2 separate regions of the Homo sapiens genome follow, and region 2 is linked to region 1. Evidence: fine-mapped expression QTL. A gene starts in region 1. The other region holds a variant in brackets. All regions are shown on one strand. Distances are from middle to middle. Region 1 holds the start of FAM153A (family with sequence similarity 153 member A). Region 2 overlaps DOK3 (docking protein 3).

What was found. PIP is the estimated chance that this variant, and not a neighbour inherited with it, causes the effect.
Region 2: its variant is the best candidate, but not a certain one, in a credible set for the expression of FAM153A in whole blood (TOPMed, PIP 0.65).

What each region holds. Positions count from the first base shown.
Region 1 is chr5:177,780,065-177,785,435 of GRCh38, forward strand. FAM153A (family with sequence similarity 153 member A) reads right to left here and starts at 2,835. Exons shown (of 23, transcript NM_001413826.1): 1 at 2,679-2,835; 2 at 385-440.
Region 2 is chr5:177,500,095-177,505,465 of GRCh38, forward strand. DOK3 (docking protein 3) reads right to left here. Exons shown (of 6, transcript NM_001308236.3): 4 at 4,917-5,016; 5 at 4,649-4,821; 6 at 1,810-4,566. The coding sequence ends at 3,889. Among named protein-coding and RNA genes, the nearest start is that of PDLIM7, 5.2 kb to the left of the region's middle. RefSeq lists enhancers at 741-980, 1,761-1,810, 1,821-1,890, 1,911-1,960, 2,460-3,413 and 1 more. The variant G/A (reference allele first, on the strand shown) is at 3,040.

The DNA.
Region 1 (5,371 bases):
ATAAACAACTTATTACAAAAATGAACTAGAAGATCCATATGTATAACAAGTCCAATTTGTTACAATGTGACTATAGAGAAAACATAAATATTATATAGGATTTTCGGGATCATAATTAAGTAAATGATTTTTTTTCAGATAATACTGTTTGAGATTATAAATCAGCTACAACTACCTTCTTAAATAACTCTTAATTCCAAACTAAAGAAGTTAAATATAAGAAACTAATTTACATGTATGTATATATGTATATATACATGCAATTTACACATCTTTTTAAACTTTTCTTTTCCTTCAAAACTACCTTAATCTTACATCTTAATTTTTTTAAACCAAGAGTAGGACCACCATGAGAAATGAGAAATTCACTATCAGAAGTCTTACCTGGATTGTAAGTTTTAAGAATCTTCTTTTTAAGTTCCAAAATTTGGTGTCGAATTCTGTATATAAAAAAGTAATAAATAAAATTGCTATTTTAATACTGAAATAAAAGTTACCATATTAAATTCTTAATGTTTGGTAAATGTGTAATCAAACTGATTCTTTTTTCCTCGCTGGCTAAAACAAAATACATCTTCGCACATCAACGTACTTCTATATCTATTGTCACCTTTGATGGTCACATATTATTGCATCCTATGGATGCAACTGAAATTTACTTATAAGATCCATTCTATGGGTTCTTTTTAAAATAAGTGCTGTGAAAAACAAAGTGCATGTATCTCTATTTCCCAAGGGTATTTTAGTATAATGGAATTGAAGGGTAACGGGCATACGCATTTTTAAAATATAGTACTTACCACCAAATTATCTATTTAAAAAGTAATCAGCAACTTAAACTTCAGGCAGCAGTATAAAAAACATCCTCACACATTGTGGATAGAAAACAGTTTCATTCCTCTTTTAATTTAAATTCTTATACCAGAAAAGCAAAGGCTTTTTTTCCTATTTACATAAGAAACTTGTAGATCTGCAAAAAAGTACTTTGCCCCCTTTTACAGTTTTTGATTATTTGATTTGAAAGAATTCCCTGTAAAATGAAGATGCACTTTTCAGGCCGGGCGCGGTGGCTCACACCTGTAATCCCAGCACTTCTGGATGGCGGCTCACTGCAAGCTCCCCCTCCCGGGTTCACAGCATTCTCCTGCCTCAGCCTCCGGAGTAGCTGGGACTATGGGCGCCCACCACCACGCCCGGCTATTTTTTTTTTTTTTTTTTTTTTTTGTATTTTTAGTACAGACAGGGTTTCACCGTGTTTGCCAGGATGGTCTCAATCTCAATCTCCTGACCTCGTGATCCGCCCACCTCGGCCTCCCAAAGTGCTGGGATTACAGGCCTGAGCCACCGCGCCCAGCCCTAAAATTTTTACAAATGTCATTACAATAGTAAAAGACAGTAGGTGTCATGCAAAAATGTTAAAACCTTGATTTTTTCATTCGGCTTATGTAAAATTGATAATCACAGAAAGAGCTCACATTTTGAGAAAAATGTGTCTTCCCATTCAGGAACACAGAACCCACCTCCCACTTCCAAGTTTCCTTCTAAGAACCTTCAGTAAAGAACCGATCTACACAGGTGGATACGGATGTAAAACGGACAGTTTTAGGTGAGAGCTTTTCGCTACTGAAAATGACTCACGGTTTTTTGTTTGTTTGTTTGTTTTTCTTTTTTGGAGACGGAGTCTCGCTCTGTCGCCCAGGCTGGAGTGCAGTGGCGCCATCTCGGCTCACTGCAAGCTGCGCCTCCCGGGTTCACGCCATTCTCCTGCCTCAGCCTCCCGAGTAGCTGGGACTACAGGCGCCCGCCACCACGCCCGGCTAATTTTTTTTTTTTTTTTTGTATTTTTAGTAGAGACGGGGTTTCACCGTGTTAGCCAGGATGGTCTCGATCTCTTGACCTGGTGATCCGCCCGCCTCGGCCTCCCAAAGTGCTGGGATTACAGGCCTGAGCCACCGCGCCCGGCCGACTCACGGTATTTTTTGATAGAGGAATGAGTTCTCTCATTAGGCACCTCCTATAATGTATATAACACCATGTTTTAAACGTGTAGGTTAAAAATAACACTGTGTATGCTTAGCTTGGTGAGTTAAATCACTCACATTCTCCACCAAGCGCTCCAGCTGGGGAATTATGGGGGATGCAGAGCAGCTGAGGCTCCGTTTGGCACCACCCCTCTGAGGGTGCCCTCTGAGGCCCCATCCCAGGGGCTGCGGGGAAGCCGGGCCTGGGGACCCCCTCCCACCCTGGGCTGAGCCCCCACCCCACTGCCTGTGCTGCCTGTCCCCGGCTTCCAGGTCTCTGCTCCTGCGCGCCAGGCAGCGCTCCACTTCCGCGGCTTCGCCCTTGACAGCGCCCTGTGGATCTTCCGATTCGGTACCCCGAACCCCTGTAGACGTGGCCTAGGGAGCCCCGGACCGCCGGCCCCTGCGGCTCCCAAAGCCGAAGAACTTCTTCAAGGTGGTGAGTTCTTCTCAGACCCCCAACCACTGGCTCCTGAGCCGCGGCAGCTCCGTGTCACCTTTTCACTCCCCCTCGCCCCACACCCAGCCCCAAATCCCCAATCCAACTCCAAATCCCCTATCCAACCCCCAATCCGCGATCCAAACCCCAATCCGTGATCCAACCCCCAATCCGTGATCCAACTCAAAATCCCCGATCCAAATCCCAATCCGCGATACCAAGTCTGCGATCTAGCCCAGAATCCGCGATCCCGCCTGGTCCACCCTTCAGCAGCGACACTGGCGGCCTCCGACCTCTCAGACCTAGTGAGCCTCGCAAAGCCGCCCGGCTCCCGGAAGCCGCAGGTGCAGGCGCCGCTGGGCTCGCGGGTTCTCCTGGGCTGGCCAGGGCTGCCCCAGGACCACGGACGGAAAATCGCAGGCGCGCGGCCCACCCCGCCTTAAGGGGAGGGCCCGCCTGGCCGTGTAGCCCGCCCCGCTCCTCCTTCCGAAGAGAGATCTGGTGCTGGCATGGGCACCCCGCGGCCACCGGAGTGGCTTCCCGGATGAGCCTGGCTTCGGCGCTGACGCTCTGGCCCTGGGGGCTGCCTGGCTGGTGTCAGGTAGCGGAAGACGCCTGGAGAGTCACTCGCTCCTTCCCCCACCCGCCCCCACCGCTGCTCGTGCCAGGACGCGCAGTTTGCAGTTGCAGCTCTGGCACTGGCGCGGGATGGCGGAGCTTCCCTTGGATGGCGTCAGGGTCACTGAGTGCACAGCCTACCTGGTCTGAGGGTCTGCTCCTCCTGGACACCTCTCCGGATCCTGATCCCTGGCGCTGGGCAATCCACAGGATGAGACTCATCGGCTGCTGGCGAAGCCGACCGCCTGACTTTGCTGCCTGGGCGGCTGGCCCCGGGATCCGCGCTGCTGGGGACGCGGGCCTGGTCTGCGGTGTCCAGCCACTTGCTGCGGGCGCGCCACGTCTAGGCTGGTGGCTGCAGCCGCAGCTCCGCGCCTGCGGGGGCTAGTGGGCCTGGTACCTGATGTCCTCAGGGTCAAGTGCATCGCTCCCCCACCTGAGGGTCTGCTCTGCCTTGACCTCCTCCAAGAGCGCAGGGGCCACCGGGGAGGCAATTTAGGAATGCCTAAATGGAAGGAACTATCCTTTCTCTGTCTTTAAGAAATAAGTGGCTTTTGTTGTTGTTTTTGTGATACCCAGCTACAGCAGAAAGCAAAGGGGATGCAGAGGTGAAGGTCCACAGCCAGTTCCTCTACTGATTCCCTCCAGGCATAAATGTTCAATCTAACGGCTTTGGTTGGCACTTTCACCTCAGCACTTACCTATGCCTACAGGTTTGTTCAATGGCAACTCTTGGATTTTGAATTAATACCCAATTATTTCATATTTTAATACCCAAACTATTTTAATAGTTTACCATATCTGCAATCCTGAATTAATTTTTTCTTTGTTTATAAAACAATCACTATAGTAAGATAAAAATCACAAAACACTTCCACATTTCATTGGGCTAAAAAAGCATTAAAACATTATACGTAAAAGATAAAAAATATATTGTTTCATCATAAAAATTATGGCTTTGCAAATTTTTTTTACCTTTAGCTACATTCTTACGATTCTTTAACTTTTCACTGTTATTTTATACATTTTTAAAACAATGCATACCAGTGTTTAAAAAACAAATGCAGCATTTCATCTAGGACTGAACATATAACGCTGGTCAGCTCTTTCAGCATGGTGCAGGTGTGGGCCTCAGGCTGCTTTCTGTTTACATGTATCAAATGACATGACCATCTTAACTGCACAGATACCATCTTCTCGGCTTCTTTCTTCTCCCCCAAAACTATTTAATGTTGCTTTAATGGCAACATCAATTTAACTAGTTTTGTAATTTCTGTATTTAATTGTCACATAACATTATATCCGTTCTTTTTTTTTTTAAAAAAAAAGGAAAGCATACAATCTTAGTTGCTAGGCCAGTTCTTCTGAATCAATTTGAAATCACCTTTTTTCTCTTTCATAATAACTACTTATTTTAATCAACAAGTCAACTATTATTAGATATTAACTTATTTTTTCTAGTTAAAATTTTGCTATCTTTCAAATAATTCCAACTCTTACACACACATTTAATGTACATAACTGTAACATATACATACATAAGCACAGGTTAAGCCAGATCTAACATGAATTTAGATATGCCAAGAAAGCCACATGACCATTATTTACATAAATATGACCAGTGTTCACATTTATCAAGGCCAATGAATATTAAGGTGATTGCTTCAATAAGAAATTAGGTGAAGAATTATTTGTTGAATATTGTCAAACACTTTTTTTAACCTGTTAAAGTTATTTAAGCCTGACCCAAATAATTTTTAAACTTTTTATTCTATCATGCCTATAGACAGCTTCATATATTAACCATTTCTGCTTTCGTGGTCCTTTGAGAATGGTATCTTAGTATGTAAGTGCAATAAATAAACAACTTTTAAAGGAATAAAGAAAATTGATATAAATTAGTCTGGAAAATCTAGTCTGTAGCTGGGCAGCCAGGTGCCCCCAGCTAAACCTCAAGGGATGGTTCTGTTAAAGTGAAGAAAAGAAGAATAGTGTGTAACAGAAGCCTGCTCTGTGGCTCCAGGTTACAGCTGTGGCCACCCAATCTGCCTTGTGCCTCCTTCTTCTCACAAGTACACACTCATCCCAGCCCCAAGCAAGAAAGACCAAAGTCCCTTGCCAGGCGCGGTGGCTCACGCCTGTAATCCCAGCACTTTGGGAGGCCGAGGCGGGTGGATCACGAGGTCAGGAGATCGAAACCATCCTGGCTAACACGGTGAAACCCCGTCTCAACTAAAAATACAAAAAATTAGCCAGGCGTGGTGGTGGGCGCCTGTAGTCCCAGCAGCTACTC
Region 2 (5,371 bases), 280 kb before region 1:
TCCAGCCACCCTGACCTCCTCACTCACATTTCCTCCAGCAGGCCAAGCATATTTCTGCCTCAGGGCCTCTCCACTTGCCAGTTCCCCTGCTTGAAACACTTTTCTTTTTTTTTCTTTTTTCTTTTCTTTTTTTTTTTTGAGACGGAGTCTCGCTCTGTCATCCAGGCTGGAGTGCAGTGGTGTGATCTCGGCTTGCTGCAACCTCTGCCTCCCACGTTCAAGTGATTCTCCTGCCTCAACCTCCCGAGTAGCTGGGACTACAGGCATGAACCACCATGCCCGGATAATTTTTATATGTTTAGTAGAGATGGGGTTTCTCCATGTTGGTCAGGCTGCTCTCAAACTCCTGACCTCCAGCGATCCACCTGCCTTGGCCTCCCAAAGTGCTGGGATTACAGGCGTGAGCCACCATGCCCGGTGCCCGGCCCTTGAAACACTTCTCCAGATATCTCAGCAACAGGTTTCCAACTTTATTTAGGTCTCTGCTCAGATGTGGCCTCCTCCCAGGGCCTTTCCTGATCACAGCTGAAACAGCAATCCCTGGATGCCTCACCCGCATCACACACTAGGCCCTCCCTCTGCTTTATTTTTCCCCATAGCATCTCCATCATCTCACATTCTGTATGAAATGTTTGTTTATTTAAGAATCCCACAGCACCAGAGACATCTGGATGTGGAAAAGGCATCTCCAGATTCCATGTGTGGAGGGAGATGGGGGAATGGGGACTCTCTGCGGTGCTCTTTCCAGGGTGTGTTCTTTGTTAGGACAATGAAGACACACAGCTAATGTGTCTTATCTAACATTTCCCCAGGGCCAGCACACAGTGGATGTGAATGAACACACGAAGAAAGGAAGGATTGACAAAGTGAAACAGCAAATGAGCAAAGGAAGAGGCGGCAGCCTGGGGGTCCTGGCAGTCCTCCAGCAGAGAGGACCCCAGGCTCCCATTCCTTGGGCTGGTGCAAGGCTCTGGTCTGTGTCCCCTGGGGAGCCTCCCAGCACAGGCAGCCCCTGCGTAGCAACTGGACCTGGACAAGGACCCAGCGCCCTCTGGTGGCCGAGACTCCTGAGGCTCCAGGCCAGGCCTCTAGCGTCCTGGTGGTTTCCAAGGACTTTCTTTCCCACAGTCCCCTTGGAATATCACAGAAATCCCTAGGAAACAAAGCAGCTCAGATTTGTAATGAAGGAAAGGATGCCATGCTGGGTCCCCAGAGTCCTGGGTTCTGGTTCTAGCCATGCCCCTGACTCTCTGGGTGACCTTCAGCGTGTCCTGGGATTTGAGCTGCCAAGGGCTGGGCTTGGGCTTGCCACTGTAGGGAGTGGGGGTGCCTGCAGCAGCACCTCGACTGCCCGCCTCTTGGCCTCAGCTTGCTCTAAGACCTTACCCATCAGGAAGTGCTTGCATGAATAAGTGAGCCAAAATCTTCCTCCCTATGGCTCTAGCATCCCTCCAGGCTTTGCATTCTGTGTCCACACACATCCTGGAAGAACACCAGAGTCTCCATTCCCCCAACCCCCTTTCACCCATGGGATCTGGAGATGTCTTTTCCACATCCAGATGTCTCGTGTGCAGTGGGATTCCTAAATCTGGAGCTCAGGGGGAGGTGTGCACTGAAGACAGACCTTCGGGGTCATTAGCACCTAGAGGGTCTGTGACACCTGGAGAATGACTGGCTTGCTGAGGCCAGTGGTTCCCAGCCTAGGCTGCATACTACAATCATCCGGAAATCCAGTGAGCGTGGATGCCCAGAACCCACCTACCAGACTGATGAAATCAGAGCCCCTGCGTGTGGGCCCAGGCATGGGCATTTGATTTTTAAAATTTTTTATTTTCTTGGTAGATCACTCACAGAACATGCATGGACATTTTTACAGGCTTTCAGGAGATTCTTTGTGTAGCAGGGTTGAGCTACACTACATCTGAGCCTAGGACCCTGGGAAGAACTCAGAGAAGGCAGCAGTAGAGGCTGGGAAGGAGATTGTTATGAGGTAGGAGGAATAGCAAGTAACGGGGGTGTTTCAAGAACCAGAGCCGAGTGCTGCTGAGAAGTCAAAGTCCTTGTTGCTTTTGTTTTGGAGAATAAGGTTGGTGACTCTAATAAAAGCCACATAATGGCATCATGGGGATGAAGGAGAGTTAATTGAGGGGAGAATGGGGGTGAGAAAGTGGAAATGAAAGTAATCAACAACTCTTTTGAACAGTTTTTGCTGTGAAGAGGAACAGAGAAACAGAGGTGGCCGAAGAGGAATGTGAGGTCAAGGGAAGGTTTAAAATGTGAAATTACAGAGCATGTTTGCGTGTGGCTGGAAAAGCTGCTGGTAGGATGAATGGGCGCAGGAGAGAGTGGGGACAGCTCAATTTTCCAAGCTCTGAGGTGAAAGGAGCCGGGATCAGAGCACAGCTGGGGACAGACACTGTTTCTACTGTAGGGGTAGGAAGAAGACAGATGGATGCCAGTACACTTGCAGATACGGTGGGAGAGCCCGACCTGTTTCCCCAATATGCCTGTGAGGAGACATTGGGTGGGGATAGACAGGAGGTTCTGGGGAGGAGAAAAGCTGCCCTACTAGGGAACAGGGTCTCTTGTGGCAGGGAGTGCCTGCCTTGCACTGTTAAGAAGGATGCAGGCAGTCTGCTTAAATGGATTTCTCTGGCTGTGGGCAGCTGTGTGCAGGCACTGAGGAGGTCTGGGCTCGCCCAAGGCCGGGGACTTTGCCAGACCAGTAAGATGAAACGAGAGAGAACAGGGGGAAGGGACTATGGAGAACAAAGAGGGGATGGTGGGCAGAGGCCTCGAAGAGCCAGAAAAGGGTCCCTGCAGGTCGACATGCCTAGGCAGGGGCGGTACTGGCCGCACTAAAGGAAGTGAGCTGGAAGGAGGTGGCGGCCAGAGGATGAGGCTTGGACAGGAGAGAGCAAAAATTGTGTGTCCGTCATGAAAATGAGGTTCAGGATGTGCCAAGGGTGTGTGCAGCTGAGGTGGAGTTGCGGTGAGGGGCTGGGCAGTCAGAGCCCTGGAGGCATGACGCTTGCGTGC[G/A]TGGCTGGCTCCTAGGATGGCGCCAGGAGCAGGAGCAGAGGAGGGAACGCAGCATGGAAGTCTTCAGGAAACTTCTCTCCCCCTGGAATGTCGGCTCCCGGAGAACAGGACCAAGGCTGTCCTGAACACGGCTGTGTCCCCCAGCGCCTGGCACTGAGTAGGCACGCAGCAAACTCTCATCAAGGATTATGCCTGATACGTCATCGGTTCTCTCTCCTTTACAGATGAGGAGACTGACGCCTGGGGTTCCCAGAAGTATCTGCAAATTGTTGGAGTTTCAGCAGGGAACAAGTGTTTTGGACGAGGGTGTCTCTGAAATCCCTTCCACCTGCACCCCGCCCCCACTGCCTCCTCCCAGCTCGGGCCTCCGGGTCTCCAGTTGGGCCCTCATGTTGCTCCTTCCTGAGTCTGACAAGTAAGCCTCACAGCTCCCTCCGCCTGCCTCTTCGTGTCACTCGGCCGTGCAGAGCAACATGGAGTCCTAATGATTTCCATCCCGTCTGTCTGCTGCAGTGGGTTTGAGCCCACGGGTGGCAGGTAAGGCCCAGGTCACCTGTGCCCCTGGAACCGGCACAGGGTGCTTGTGTTGGCCGCAATGAACGTGGGCAGGGGCGTGTGCCGTGAGTGCCCCTGCCGGGAGCTGCTCTGAGCTTTATTATCTGTGAGTCTGCACACTATTCATGAGGAGGGCAGGGCAGGGCTGAGGTCCTCCACAGGCGGCCTGCCTTGTTCCTGCAGGCCAGGGTGGACACAGGCGTGTGTCTGCATGGGCCCAATGTTTGCCCACCAGCCCACCCTCCTGTCCCAGGGGGAGCACCTCTCCCCTCTGGCCACCACTCTGCTGGGCGTTCAGGGCCGGTCACAAGGGGCTGGGCCCTTCCTCCGCTCACGACTCAGCAGGGTCACCAGCTTGGCCTTGAAACCTGCCTGAGGGTCAGGGCGGCCTGTGCCCTCCACCTGATCCAGCTCCAGCAGCCGCCGGTACTGGGCCTCCAGGGTACTGTCGTTGGCCGGGCCGGGCCAGCTCAAGTCCTGGCCGTTGTGGTAGATGGGACTGGTTGTGGGGCTGCGGCTGCCGGGGCCCTCGTGCGGCTCAGGTTCCCCACCGTGCAGCGTGGGGCTGGCCTCCAGCACACACAGGTTCTCATAGAGGTGCTCATTGCCTGGGGGCCCACTGGCACGCTTGCACACTGAAGCGTAGAGCCCGGACGCCAGATCGTTGGGCTCCGGGCCTAGCAGTAGCGGCAGGCTCTGGGGTCCGGGCTCGGCCAGGTGCATTTTCCTGGACGTGGGTGGCTCAGGTCCTGGTGGCATCTCCCGAAGCTCTCCGGGGGTGTCCAGGGAGGGCAGAGAGGTGGCCCGTGGCAGGGGGCAGGGCTGGGGCCTGGTCAGCTCTGGCAGCCGCTCCCGCTGGCGGGCGATGGCCCCGGCCACAGCCCTGCACAGGTCAGGGGCACAGGGGGTGCTGAAGGCAAAGAGGCCCTCACCCGAGTGGCAGCGACGGCCGGCCTCAAAGGAGAACACGCCCTGGGCACAGGGCACACGGGTGGGGATTAGCAGGAGGGTCCAGGGTGTCAGCCCCTCACCCTTTCCCACCCCTGCACCTCACCTTGTCGGAGCCGAACTTGCGCAGGAAGTGGTAGGGCCAGCTGTAGAGGGCCTGGGTGCCCTTGGCCTCCCTCAGCTGGATGGCGTCTGGGCCCAGCACCAGCAGGGCCGGCCCCTTCAGCTGGCAGCGGGTGGCGGCCTCAGTCCTCTGCACCACCACGGGAAACTCGCCCACTGTGGCAGGTGGCCAGGACAGCTCCGTCAGTCCCAAAAAGACCCAGCCCTGGGTGTGGGGGGCTGAGGCTGCCCTTGCACGTCCTCCAACTTACCTTCCTGCCAGGAGGAGTAGATGGAGTTTTCCTCCATGGGGACCAGGCCCCTCTTGGGAGACTGGGCATCTGTGGATCCTGAGGAGGCCTCCCCTGTCCCCTGGGGAATGAGTTCAAGTCAAAGGTGAGAGCACCGCACTCCCATGCCCTGTCCCCTCCCCTCAGTATCCCAGAACTCCACAAGCCAGGGGGCATCCAGGGGCCTGGGCTCCAGTTCCAGCTTTGCCCGGCTCGCTGCATAAGCCTAGGTCCCCTTCCGAGCCTGTTCTCCCACCTGGCTCCCCACTGAGAGTGCTGGGCTGGGCAAGAGGCACTGTGCTTGAGGGTGTCTGAGAGCTGCAGATCACTGGGGACACAAAAGGATGTCCCTTGCAGCCCCTGGGCTTGGCTGGGCCAGCTTCTGTATGTCTGACAGCCTAGAGCAGTACCCCAGGTGTCTTCCTCCATCTCACCAC